3 linked regions of the Homo sapiens genome follow. The protein of the gene in region 2 purifies or fractionates together with the protein of the main gene of each other region. This does not show direct contact. Each region holds a gene or a part of one and is shown on either strand. Other genes may lie near its edges.

The links.
Region 1: the proteins of STAC2 (region 2) and URM1 purify together in Homo sapiens (affinity purification with mass spectrometry; one large-scale study listed by BioGRID and IntAct). This does not show direct contact.
Region 3: the proteins of STAC2 (region 2) and ANKLE2 purify together in Homo sapiens (affinity purification with mass spectrometry; one large-scale study listed by BioGRID and IntAct). This does not show direct contact.

What each region holds. Positions count from the first base shown.
Region 1 is NC_000009.12:128,381,374-128,385,024, reverse strand, and holds part of URM1 (ubiquitin-related modifier 1), read right to left. Parts: intron 1-3,651. UniProt on the Homo sapiens protein: Acts as a sulfur carrier required for 2-thiolation of mcm(5)S(2)U at tRNA wobble positions of cytosolic tRNA(Lys), tRNA(Glu) and tRNA(Gln). Serves as sulfur donor in tRNA 2-thiolation reaction by being thiocarboxylated (-COSH) at its C-terminus by MOCS3.
Region 2 is NC_000017.11:39,215,897-39,219,547, forward strand, and holds part of STAC2 (SH3 and cysteine-rich domain-containing protein 2), read right to left. Parts: intron 2,278-3,651; coding exon 1,971-2,277; intron 1,278-1,970; coding exon 1,180-1,277; intron 1,005-1,179; coding exon 914-1,004; intron 1-913. UniProt on the Homo sapiens protein: Plays a redundant role in promoting the expression of calcium channel CACNA1S at the cell membrane, and thereby contributes to increased channel activity. Slows down the inactivation rate of the calcium channel CACNA1C.
Region 3 is NC_000012.12:132,730,749-132,734,399, forward strand, and holds part of ANKLE2 (ankyrin repeat and LEM domain-containing protein 2), read right to left. Parts: coding exon 3,637-3,651; intron 3,324-3,636; coding exon of another isoform or gene 3,268-3,323; exon of another isoform or gene 3,111-3,267; intron 1-3,110. UniProt on the Homo sapiens protein: Involved in mitotic nuclear envelope reassembly by promoting dephosphorylation of BAF/BANF1 during mitotic exit.

The sequences.
Region 1 (3,651 bases), on a different chromosome or scaffold from region 2:
TGCCCAGGCCTGTGCTTCCATGTGTCTCTGACTCAACACTTGAATCACGATCCAGCTCAAATGTATGGCACTACCATTACCATTACTTGAGTGGACAACTGGGGAGGTAGGGAGGGAAGGAGGGAGGAAGAAAGAGACTAAGAGTATGGACCCTGGAGTCAGACAGGCCTGGTTTTGAGCTGGACTCCATCACTTACTAGTTCTATTACCTTAGGTAATAGGAAGCCTCGGCTTCCTTTTTTTGTAAAATGGGGATGTTAACATTGTCTCATAGGGTCATTGTGGGGGATCAAATAAGACGATATATACAAAGCTCTCAGCACTGTGCCCTGCATATCAATGCTGTAATTACTCCAGGATCCAGAGGAAGAACCTATACCCCTCGCGCTCTCTGGGTTTCTGCACGCTCTGCCCAGTGGCCTGGCACCTCAGCTTTAGAGGGCAAGGTAGAGCCAACCATTAATCAGATAGTGCTGGGACCGGCTGGGGTTTTCTGTGGCATCCCGTATCTTCCCATCAGAAGCTGGAAAGGGAATGAGGGGACTGCGAGAGTAGTGAGGGGTCCTAGATACTGACCTTCCTTCTGTGTTAGATGTTTGAACCCACAAGATGTTGGGGTTGGCCAATGCTCCCAGTACAACCCAGGTGGTAGGAATGACACTCTGAGTCTGTAGGTGCTGGCGGCCAGGCTGCCCCCGGGCACACAGCACCAGAGGAAGGAGATGGGCACTTAATACAAGGTTTCCAGTGCAGGATACCTTGGCACCTGGCCTGCCCATCGGGGGCAGAGCAGGCAATGAGAGCTGCTGCTCTATGCTGGAGTGGTTGAGTTCTGAGTCTACAGCCAGAGGACCTCGGCTGTGTGCTCGATGGCCTTAGCTAGGAAGTCACTTCATCTTGCTGTCTCAGTGTCATCCTCTGACAAGCAGGGATAATAATCCAAACACCAAGAGCTGCTGAGGATTACGTAAGGCACAATGCCCAAGGCAGGCCTGGCAGTGTCACACACACAGGACACGCTCAACAGATGGCTGCTCTGAGCTGTAAGCCCACAGTGACTTCAGATTCCTCATCCTCTGGGCTCCAGTACCTTCTAAAGGCTGCTGCCAAAGGGAGGATACCCACTGTGGAGAGCACCGACGCAAGCTCCACCAGAATCCCTCGCCCCGGTGGACTTGTCCTATTCTGGGGGACACTGACTGCCCACTGTGGGAGGGCCCCAAAGGGTGTCAGCCTCAGCCTCGTGGGACTGAAACGGAACAACCTCAAAGTCGTATCTGATATTGACTCGCAGGCGTAACAGACCCTCATCCAGCCTCTCTTTGAACACCTCCAGGGACAGGAGGTCAGCTCCTCTGTGGAGCGGCTCTGATTGTTAAGAGCTCTTTTCTCCCAAGCAGAAATCTGTCTTCCTGTCATTCCCACCCACTGGGCCTGAATGGTCCACGGGGACCATGCCAACAAATGCACCCCCTCTTCCCCAGGATGGCCCTTCAGATTTGGAAGAAAGGATCCCCTAAGTCTTCTCTTCCACAGGTTAAACTGCCTCTGTCCCCACCAAGTCCACCAGGCTCCAAGACGGCTCTTCGGAGAGCCCACCCCAGGCCTCAGTTGAAAAGGGAAAAGAAAGAGCTGGCAAGGGGGGAGTAACAGAGGAGAGGGGGTGGAGGGAACATCAGAGGGGCCATTTACAAGTGAATGGGGGTAAGAATGGAGCAGTTTGTGGGCTAAACTGGCCTCAGAAGGAGGTTTACAGATGTGCGAGGGGACCTCCTCATTGTTTAATTAAGCAGAAAGTGGATCTTTTCAAAAGCAATTTTGCACAGGGACTGGGAGGGGTGTGGGGAGGAGGGAGGTGGAGAGGGGATCAGCAAACAGGCCCTGAGAGCAGAGAAAGGAACAGCTGGCCCCAGAGAGGCTGTGAAATGCATGCTAAGCAGTTTAAAGCGCCCAGGAGCTCCTGCAGCTCCTGCCCTCCCTCACCAGCCACCCTTTAACACAAGTGGAGCAGGCAGAGGGGGCACAAAGGCAGGACAGGGGAAGACAGGCAGGGAAAGGTGAGGCGGCCATGTCTACACTTGGGGCCTGGGCAGGGGGCCTTGGGTCAAAGGGATGCTTGAATCACAGAGGCCAACTCCCAGCAGCCGCAATACCCTAAGCTGGTGGGTGCCTGCATGGCCGTTTCAGCGAGATGGCTGTTAAGACATCCCTTCTCTCACACAACTTCTTACTGGGTCAGCACACTCTGCTTCACCGAATTGTATATACTTGGATCTTGAAGAAACTTTTCTTATAGATGTCAAAGAGACAACCAGCTCAATAACATACAGAGCGAGCCCAACCTCCCATCTTACAGATAGGGAAGAAAGAGTCTGGCAGGAATAAGTGATGTGCAACTGCGCGTGCCAGGCTTCCTCTCTCGCAGTCTCACTCCCTCAGGCCTTGCTCATCATTTCTCCCAAATTGGCTGGGTTGGAAGCTCTCCCCTGGCCTAGGAGCCACGAGTTCCCTCATTTGTGAGGCTTGTCACATTCTGAAATCTTACGGCTGCTATTATTTCTGCTGGAACCTCCAAGACTCGCTTGGCCAAGTGGCAGCCCCTAGGCTGGGAAGTCTGCCAGATGACATATCTGGGCATGGACTTGGGGGAAGGGTAAGACTCTCCTAGCAGCACCAGGCCCCTGACCCCCAGCTGGGCTCACATGTGCCAGGGTGAGGCCTGGCAGCTGCTAACCAGCTCTGTTGGTGACCTAGGTCACCAACCTAGGTTACCATGGGTCTGCTGTGTGACCCATGCCTCTGGGCACAACAGGAACCAGGTGTAGGGACTCACAGCAAAGGAGCCAAAGACTAAGTGGGCCATTGTGCCTTCCCTCCCACTCCCCTCCTTTCTTCCCAGAGTGGGGATAGGCCCCTGCCTGTTCCCTGAACAGTGGCTGGAAGATGAAGGATAAAAAAATCTGAGTCCCAGCCCAGCCTCCCTACTTGGGTAACTCTGGGCAGGCCTCAGGTCCCTCCCTCCTTCTCTTTCTCTTTTAGGGGTCTCTTATCTCTTGGGGTCATCTGAAAGTTGAAATAAGTAGTTGTTGAACTCATGAATAAATAAATGAAGGAAAGCGTAAAAACTGGAAAATGTAAGATGTTAGAGTAATTCAGGGAGCCTCTTGGGATAGACGGTGATGGGTTAGTGGCAAAGCGCCAGGACTCTGAAATTCAGTGGCCTGAAAGCTAGTTCTGAATCCCAACCCTGCTATTTAAATAACTCTATGACTTGGGGTGAGACCCCTGACTTCTCTAAATTTTGGTTTCTACCTTTTATTTGTTTTGTTTTTTGTTTTTGAGACGGAGTCTTGCTCTGCGCCCAGGCTGGAGTGCAGTGGCACGATCTCGGCTCACTATACAACCTCCACCTCCAGGGTTCAAGCGATTCTCCTGCCTCAACCTGGGATTACAGGTGCCCACCACCATGCCCAGCTATTTTTGTATTTTTAGTAGAGACAGGGTTTCACCATGTTGGCCTGGCTGGTCTCTAACTCCAGACCTCAGGTGATCCGCCTACCTTGGCCTCCCAAAGTGCTGGGATTACAGGAGTGAGCCACTGCACCTGGCCTTGGTATGTTACCTCCTTAAAGAGACCTCTGCTGACCACCT
Region 2 (3,651 bases):
TTGGTCAGGCTTGTCTCAAACTCCTGACACTGTGATCCGCCCGCCTCGGCCTCCCAAAGTGCTGAGATTACAGGTGTGAGCCACCACACTTGGCACTTTGCCCTTTCTTTAACTCCCTGTCCTTCCTTTCTCAGGCTTCCCTCTGCCCCACACCAGTCTTTCCAGATCCTAAATGGATGAACCCCTCATGCCTCATCCTTCACATCTCTGGGAAGTCTTCCCTGATTTTGCAGATGAAGACAGCGAGCTTTTTCTTTTCTCTTAATTTAGAGATAGGGTCTCACCATGTTGCCCAGGCTGGACTCCAACTCCTGGGCTCAAGCAATCCTCCTGCCTCAGCCTCCCAAGTAGCTGGGATTACAGGTATGAGCCACCACACCCAGCTTTCAGCACACATTCTATGCTCTATTCCTTATCTTCCCCACTTAAGGCGCTCATGCTGATGGTGATTGATTGATGATTTGCATGACTGTCCATTTCAGTCCTATCTCCTTTACTAGACAATAAATTCCACCTTCTTCACTACTGTGTCTCAGAGTCCAGCACTGTGCCTGGCACTTAGTATGTGCTTAATAAAGTGCTTGTTGAAGGAATGATGAGTGAATGAATGAATGAACCCCAAATTCAGGACAGGAACATCCAGAGAAGGGAAATGGTAGGAACTGTCTGTGCCAGTGTGACTCAGGCACCCATCTCAGAAATGTTGATTTCTTTCTTTTTTTTTGAGATGGAGTCTCACTCTGTAGCCCAGGCTGGAGTGCAGTGGCGTGATCTTGGCTCACTGCAACCTCCGCCTCCTGGGTTCAAGCAATTGAGAGACGGGGTTTCACTGTGTTGGCCAGGCTGGTCAGGGATGTTGATTTCTCATCCCACCACAATGGGAGCAGGGACTGCGGCCAGGGGGGGCACTCACCAGTGGGTGGGGACTCTTTGCTTGTGGCACAGACTGGTGGCGGCTCATGCACCAGGAGAGGGGAACTGAAGTTGCGGCGGAAGGAGGTGGACTATGGCAAGAGAGGGCAGAGAGGTTTTGAGGAGGTCATGGCCTATGGAGAACTTGGTCCTTCCCAAGCCCAGGGCCCACCCCACAGGAAGGAGCAGCCCTGAGGGATACTCATTCTCCCATGTGACAGTACTGGCAGCACTCAGCTGGCCATCTCTGCCTGGGTCCCCGCTCACCGTCTTGCCTGGGCATTGCTGGTGGGAGATCTCCTCAGAGCACCAGAGGTGGACGCTGACTTTGCACATCTTACATCGCAAGCCCTGTTTGGAGTTTCCTAGGAAGAATTTGGGTTCAGCAATTGAGGACACCCCCGTGGGCAACAGGCAAAGGAGGGGCACATTAGGGGATGAGGAGAGCAGGGGTTGGGCATTCTCATGCCAGCCTTGAGGCCCAGCACCTACCCCTCACACAGTCAGGGTATGAGGGAGCACGGAAGCCAGAGTCGTTAGTAAACATGGCAGTGACACTGAGGCAGTGACACTGAGTATACCCCCACCCTTGGTGGTGCTCCTCTCTCTGCCTTGGGTAAGAGGCACAGTTGGGGGTGGGTGCAATGGCTCACATCTGTAATCCCAGCACTTTGGGAGGCTGAGGTGGATGGATTGCTTGAGCCCAGGGTTTGACCAGCCTGAGCAACATGGCAAAACCCCATCTCTACAAAAAATATTTTAAAATTAGCTGGGCATGGTAGTGTGTGCCTGCAGTCCCAGCTACTACAGAGGCTGAGGCAGGAGGATCCCTTGAGCCAGGGAAGTGGAGGTTGCAGTGAACCAAGATTGCATCACTGCACTCCAGCCTGGGAGACAGAGCAAGACTCTGTCTCAAAAAAAAAAAGAGGCACAGAGGCACAATTAGTATTGGGGCTCCTGAACAGCAAGAGCCCAATAATATTGGGCGCAACATGAGCCCACTCCCCAGTACCCACGCTGGCCCCTCCCCGTGGCCGCCTCAGTGCCCAGGCACCTACCTACGATGAGCTGGTGGCACAGCTCACAAGGGCTAGCTCGCTTGAAGACATGTTCCTGGAAGCTGTGCAGCCTCACTGGTTTGAGCGCTGCCAGGGGGCGTGGGACTGGGCATGGGGAGGGGGATGGGGTAGCCAGGCCCCTGTCCGAGGCTGTGGGTGGTGGGGAGGGAGGGGGCAGTGGGGTTGGGGGCGTCAGCAGCACCTCGGTGGGGCACTTGAGCTCAGAGCCCGAGCGAAGGAAGAAGTTCTCCAAGCTCTTACTTCGGAGGATGGTCTTGAGGGAGAGGGAGCGCTTGAATCGCTGGAGCTGGGAGAAAAAGAGGGAGCTGTGAGTGGGAGCCTAGAGGGGGCTGGCCAGGGCGGGCTTCCCTTCAGGGTGTCTCTGGCGGTAGGGGCGGCAGCAGCAGCAGCAGCAGCAGCGTGGGGGCTGAGGGCCAGAGCGAAATGAAACAGCAACAGAGAGGCTCCCCAGGTCCCGACGACACTTCGCAATCTCAGGTGCCACAAAAGCCAGGTGGTTGACCTCCATGGAGAAAGGAGTTCTGGCCAGGTGGGCAGCAATCAAGAGCCGTGGGGACTGTGGCAAACTGGATGGCCAGGGAGTAGCTGCAGGTCTCCTCAAGCCAATTGAGGCTGTTGCCAGGTTTTCTAGTTTTTCAAAAGAAATCTAGACTTTTATGTGAAATCGGATAGAAACAAGTTTAAGTGGTTTAATTCCATTTTTCTTTGAAGAAATGGTAGTATACTATATTTCCTGTGCCTTGCTTTTTTTCATAAACAGTAAATCTTGGAAATCATTCCATACCCATACATAAATAGATTCATCATTCTTTTTTATGGCTACAAAGTATTTTGTTGTATGGGTGTACCATTTACTCAAGTTTAGAAAAAAAAAAATAGGCACGGTATGGTGGCTCCTGCCTATAATCTCAGCACTCTGAGAGGCTGAGGCGGGAGGGAATCGCTTGAGCCAAGCAGTTGGAGACCAGCCTGGGCAACGTAGTATCCACCTGTGTTCTCGAACAGGCTGGTGGGGGGTGAGGAGTGGTCGTCCTGGACCCTCATCCTTGGGACTGATTCTCCCCGACAGAAAGTCTCTCTAGCCCTCCCCTCCCTCCCATTGACTCGTCACCTCACAGCCCTTAGTTCAGGCCCTGATGCCCCAGTCTGCTTCAAGGCCACAGCCTCCCCTCCAGCCCCCTGCTTCCACCTGTCCTCCATACAGCTGTTGCGGGGGTGATGCCTGATCCTGCTAAAAACTCTTCCTAGCTCCTCGGGACACCGTCCAAGGCTCTCGCCCCAGCCACGAGACTCTCCTTGCAACTTGGCCAAACCTGTCCTTCCAACCTGTGCCTTTGCAGCCCAGAAACTCATTTCTCAATTCATTGAGAATTGAGAATCCTCAATTCTCAAACTCATCCATGCTTTTATGCCTCTGAGCTTTTGACATGTTTGTCCTCTTCTCTGCCTCACTCAGTTCATACCCTCTTTATCCTGCCAATATGCTTCCACTGGTCCTTCCTCCTCCAGGAACTCTCTTCTGCAGGAATTCTGTCTCATGACCCACTCCCTCCTCTGGTGTCCACTGCATCCAGCCCAACTTCCACCACAGCTCCACTCGGGTGATGCTTGTTATTTATTTCTCACTCCCCCAGGAGATTGTGAGCCCCTTGGGGACGGA
Region 3 (3,651 bases), on a different chromosome or scaffold from region 2:
AGGCTGCAGTGGGCTGTGACTGCACCATTGCTTTCCATCCTGTGCCACAGAGTGAGACCCTATTTCAGACGAGGAGGGAAATAAAGCTGCCAGGCTGACTTTTCTTTCAAAGGCAGGGACATGAAAACGCCAAGGGCAGCCCAGGTGATGGGCGAGATGACTGCCCTGCACCCCCAGCCACCCTCCAGCTCCGATCTGCTGCGACCCCAGGGGCTCCGAGTGTCACAGTGCCCCAGAGGATCCCGAAGATCGTCCAGAACAACTCCATGAAGTAACCCTGCTGCGCTTTAGGTGTGAAGATAACACAGAAGAGCTCCCGGGCGCAGCACTGTGCGACAGGCAACAGAAATGTCCCGTTTGGTGTTCACGATGGTGGCCGCGGCCACAGGAGGATCCAGAACACTTGAGCTGTGGCTCCTGCTACTTAGGAAATGCCTCAACTTTATTTAATATTTACTAATTAAAATGTACATAGTCACAAGACAACACTGTAAATGAGGCCGCTTTACAGAAGTGAGTTCTGTGCCACCATCAGCTACAACACAGCAAGGTCAGACTTCAATGATTCCTGTATAACGACGGCACTGACGTCGCTCTAGTTCTGTGGTTCAGAGTCACAGGTCGTGACTGTTGAAGATTCACTGCTTCTTAGTTTAATGTATGTCAATCATTTTCATTTTCTATCATTCCAGGGAGTTTGTTTTATAAATGAAGTGTCTTGCGGGCTAATGGTTCTATTATGACCTTACACACACAAACTCACACAGACACACACTCACACACACACACACACAGTTTAAACTGTATATCTGCTTTAATTTGTATTTTAGCAGATTCGAATCTCTAGTTATTAGCAAATTTCTGTTTTTTTAAAAAAATAAATAGAGACAGAGTCTCACTATGTTGCTCAAGCTGCCTTCGAACTCCTGGGTTTCAGCAATCCACCCACGTTGGCCTCCCTAAGTGCTGGGATTATAGTGTGAGCCGCCACGCCCGGCCGCTGGGATTGCAGGCCTGAGCTCCCGTGCCCGGCCATCGTTGATGTTTTTATGAATCACTTTTAGATTTTGTAGATTAACCTCTTCCATCATGCTCTTTCCATTCAGTGCATCTGTGCTTTGGAAGCACTTTGCATCGTGGTGTCTGATATGCACCGTGTGAAGTGCTTTGCGTGTGCGTCCTGGTGTCTGATATACACCGTGTGAAGCGCTCTGCGTCCTGGTGTCTCATATGCACCGTGTGAAGCGCTCTGCGTCCTGGTGTCTGATATGCACCGTGTGAAGCTCTCTGCATGCTGGTGTCTGATGTGCACCGTGTGAAGCGCTTTGCGTTTGCGTCCTGGTGTCTGATATACACCATGTGAAGCGCTCTGCGTCCTGGTGTCTGATATACACCGTGTGAAGCGCTCTGCATCCTGGTGTCTGATACGCACCGTGTGAAGCGCTCTGCGTCCTGGTGTCTGATACGCACCGTGTGAAGTGCTCTGCATCCTGGTGTCTGATACGCACCGTGTGAAGCGCTCTGCATCCTGGTGTCTGATACGCACCGTGTGAAGCTCTCTGCGTCCTGGTGTCTGATACGCACCGTGTGAAGCTCTCTGCGTCCTGGTGTCTGATACGCACTGTGAAGCGCTCTGCGTGCTGGTGTCTGATACGCACCGTGTGAAGCTCTCTGCGTCCTGGTGTCTGATATGCACCGTGTGAAGCTCTCTGCGTGCTGGTGTCTGACATGCACCGTGTGAAGCTCTCTGAGTGCTGGTGTCTGATACGCACCGTGTGAAGCTCTCTGCATGCTGGTGTCTGATATGCACCGTGTGAAGCACTGCGCGTCCTGGCGTCTGATACGCACCGTGTGAAGCTCTCTGCGTCCTGGTGTCTGATACGCACCGTGAAGCGCTCTGCGTGCTGGTGTCTGATACGCACCGTGTGAAGCTCTCTGCGTCCTGGTGTCTGATATGCACCGTGTGAAGCTCTCTGCGTCCTGGTGTCTGATATGCACCATGTGAAGCACTGCGCGTCCTGGTGTCTGATATGCACCGTGTGAAGCTCTCTGCGTCCTGGTGTCTGACGTGCACCATGTGAAGCCCTCTGCGTGCTGGTGTCTGATATGCACCGTGTGAAGCGCTCTGCATCCTGGTGTCTGAAATGCACCGTGTGAAGCGCTCTGCATCCTGGTGTCTGATATGCACCGTGTGAAGCTCTCTGCGTCCTGGTGTCTGAAATACACTGTGTGAAGCGCTCTGCGTCCTGGTGTCTGATATGCACTGTGTGAAGCGCTCTGCGTCCTGGTGTCTGATATGCACCGTGAAGCGCTCTGCATGCTGGTGTCTGATACGCACCGTGTGAAGCTCTCTGCGTCCTGGTGTCTGATATGCACCGTGTGAAGCACTGCGCGTCCTGGTGTCTGATATGCACCGTGTGAAGCTCTCTGCGTGCTGGTGTCTGATATGCACCGTGTGAAGCTCTCTGCGTCCTGGTGTCTGATATGCACCGTGTGAAGCACTGCGCGTCCTGGTGTCTGATATGCACCGTGTGAAGCTCTCTGCGTCCTGGTGTCTGACGTGCACCGTGTGAAGCTCTCTGCGTCCTGGTGTCTGATATGCACCGTGTGAAGCGCTCTGCGTCCTGGTGTCTGACAGGCACCGTGTGAAGCTCTCTGCGTCCTGGTGTCTGATATGCACCGTGTGAAGCTCTCTGCGTGCTGGTGTCTGATATACCCCGTGTGAAGCACTGCGCGTCCTGGTGTCTGATATGCACCGTGTGAAGCTCTCTGCGTGCTGGTGCCTGATATGCACCGTGTGAAGCGCTCTGCATCCTGGTGTCTGAAATGCACCGTGTGAAGCACTCTGCATCCTGGTGTCTGAAATGCACCGTGTGAAGCTCTCTGCGTCCTGGTGTCTGAAATACACTGTGTGAAGCGCTCTGCGTCCTGGTGTCTGATATGCACTGTGTGAAGCGCTCTGCGTCCTGGTGTCTGATACGCACCGTGCAAGGCGCTTCGTGCCCTGGTGTCTGATATACACCAGTATTCTGATGTGCACTCGTCTTTTTCCTGAAAATATACCAAATCTAAAATATCAGGCTCAGCCAATGGAGTTCAGCTATTATGAGTTTTGAGAAAACGGCACAGAATGAAACTATATTAGATTTTGGATAATGCAAACACAAGCAGAAACAGCAATACTGCTCAAAGCGATGCCATTATTTTTCATGTACCCTCCCCGACACACAACCCATTTAACATTAACCTTCCCAGCACTCTAGTGGATCACGAGGTCAGGAGTTCGAGACCAGCCTGGTCAATACGGTGAAACCGCATCTCCACTAAAAAAAAAAAAAATACGAAAATTAGCCAGGCGTGGTGGCGGGCGCCTGTAGTCCCAGCTACTCAGGAGGCTGAGGCAGAAGAATCGCTTGAACCCAGGAGGTGGAGGTTGCAGTGAGCCAAGATTGCGCCACTGCACTCCAGCTTGGGTAACAAAGAGAGGTTCCGTCTCAAAAAATACTAACCTAAGGGAAAGTACCAGACCTTTACGTTAAAAACACCAAGAGACGAGAAACAGATGTGCGCATCCCGTCAGACCCCGGCCATGGGGGGCCCCTCCCAGCTGCCACAGCCACGCCTGCACATGCTTACCAGACGTGGTGGCTT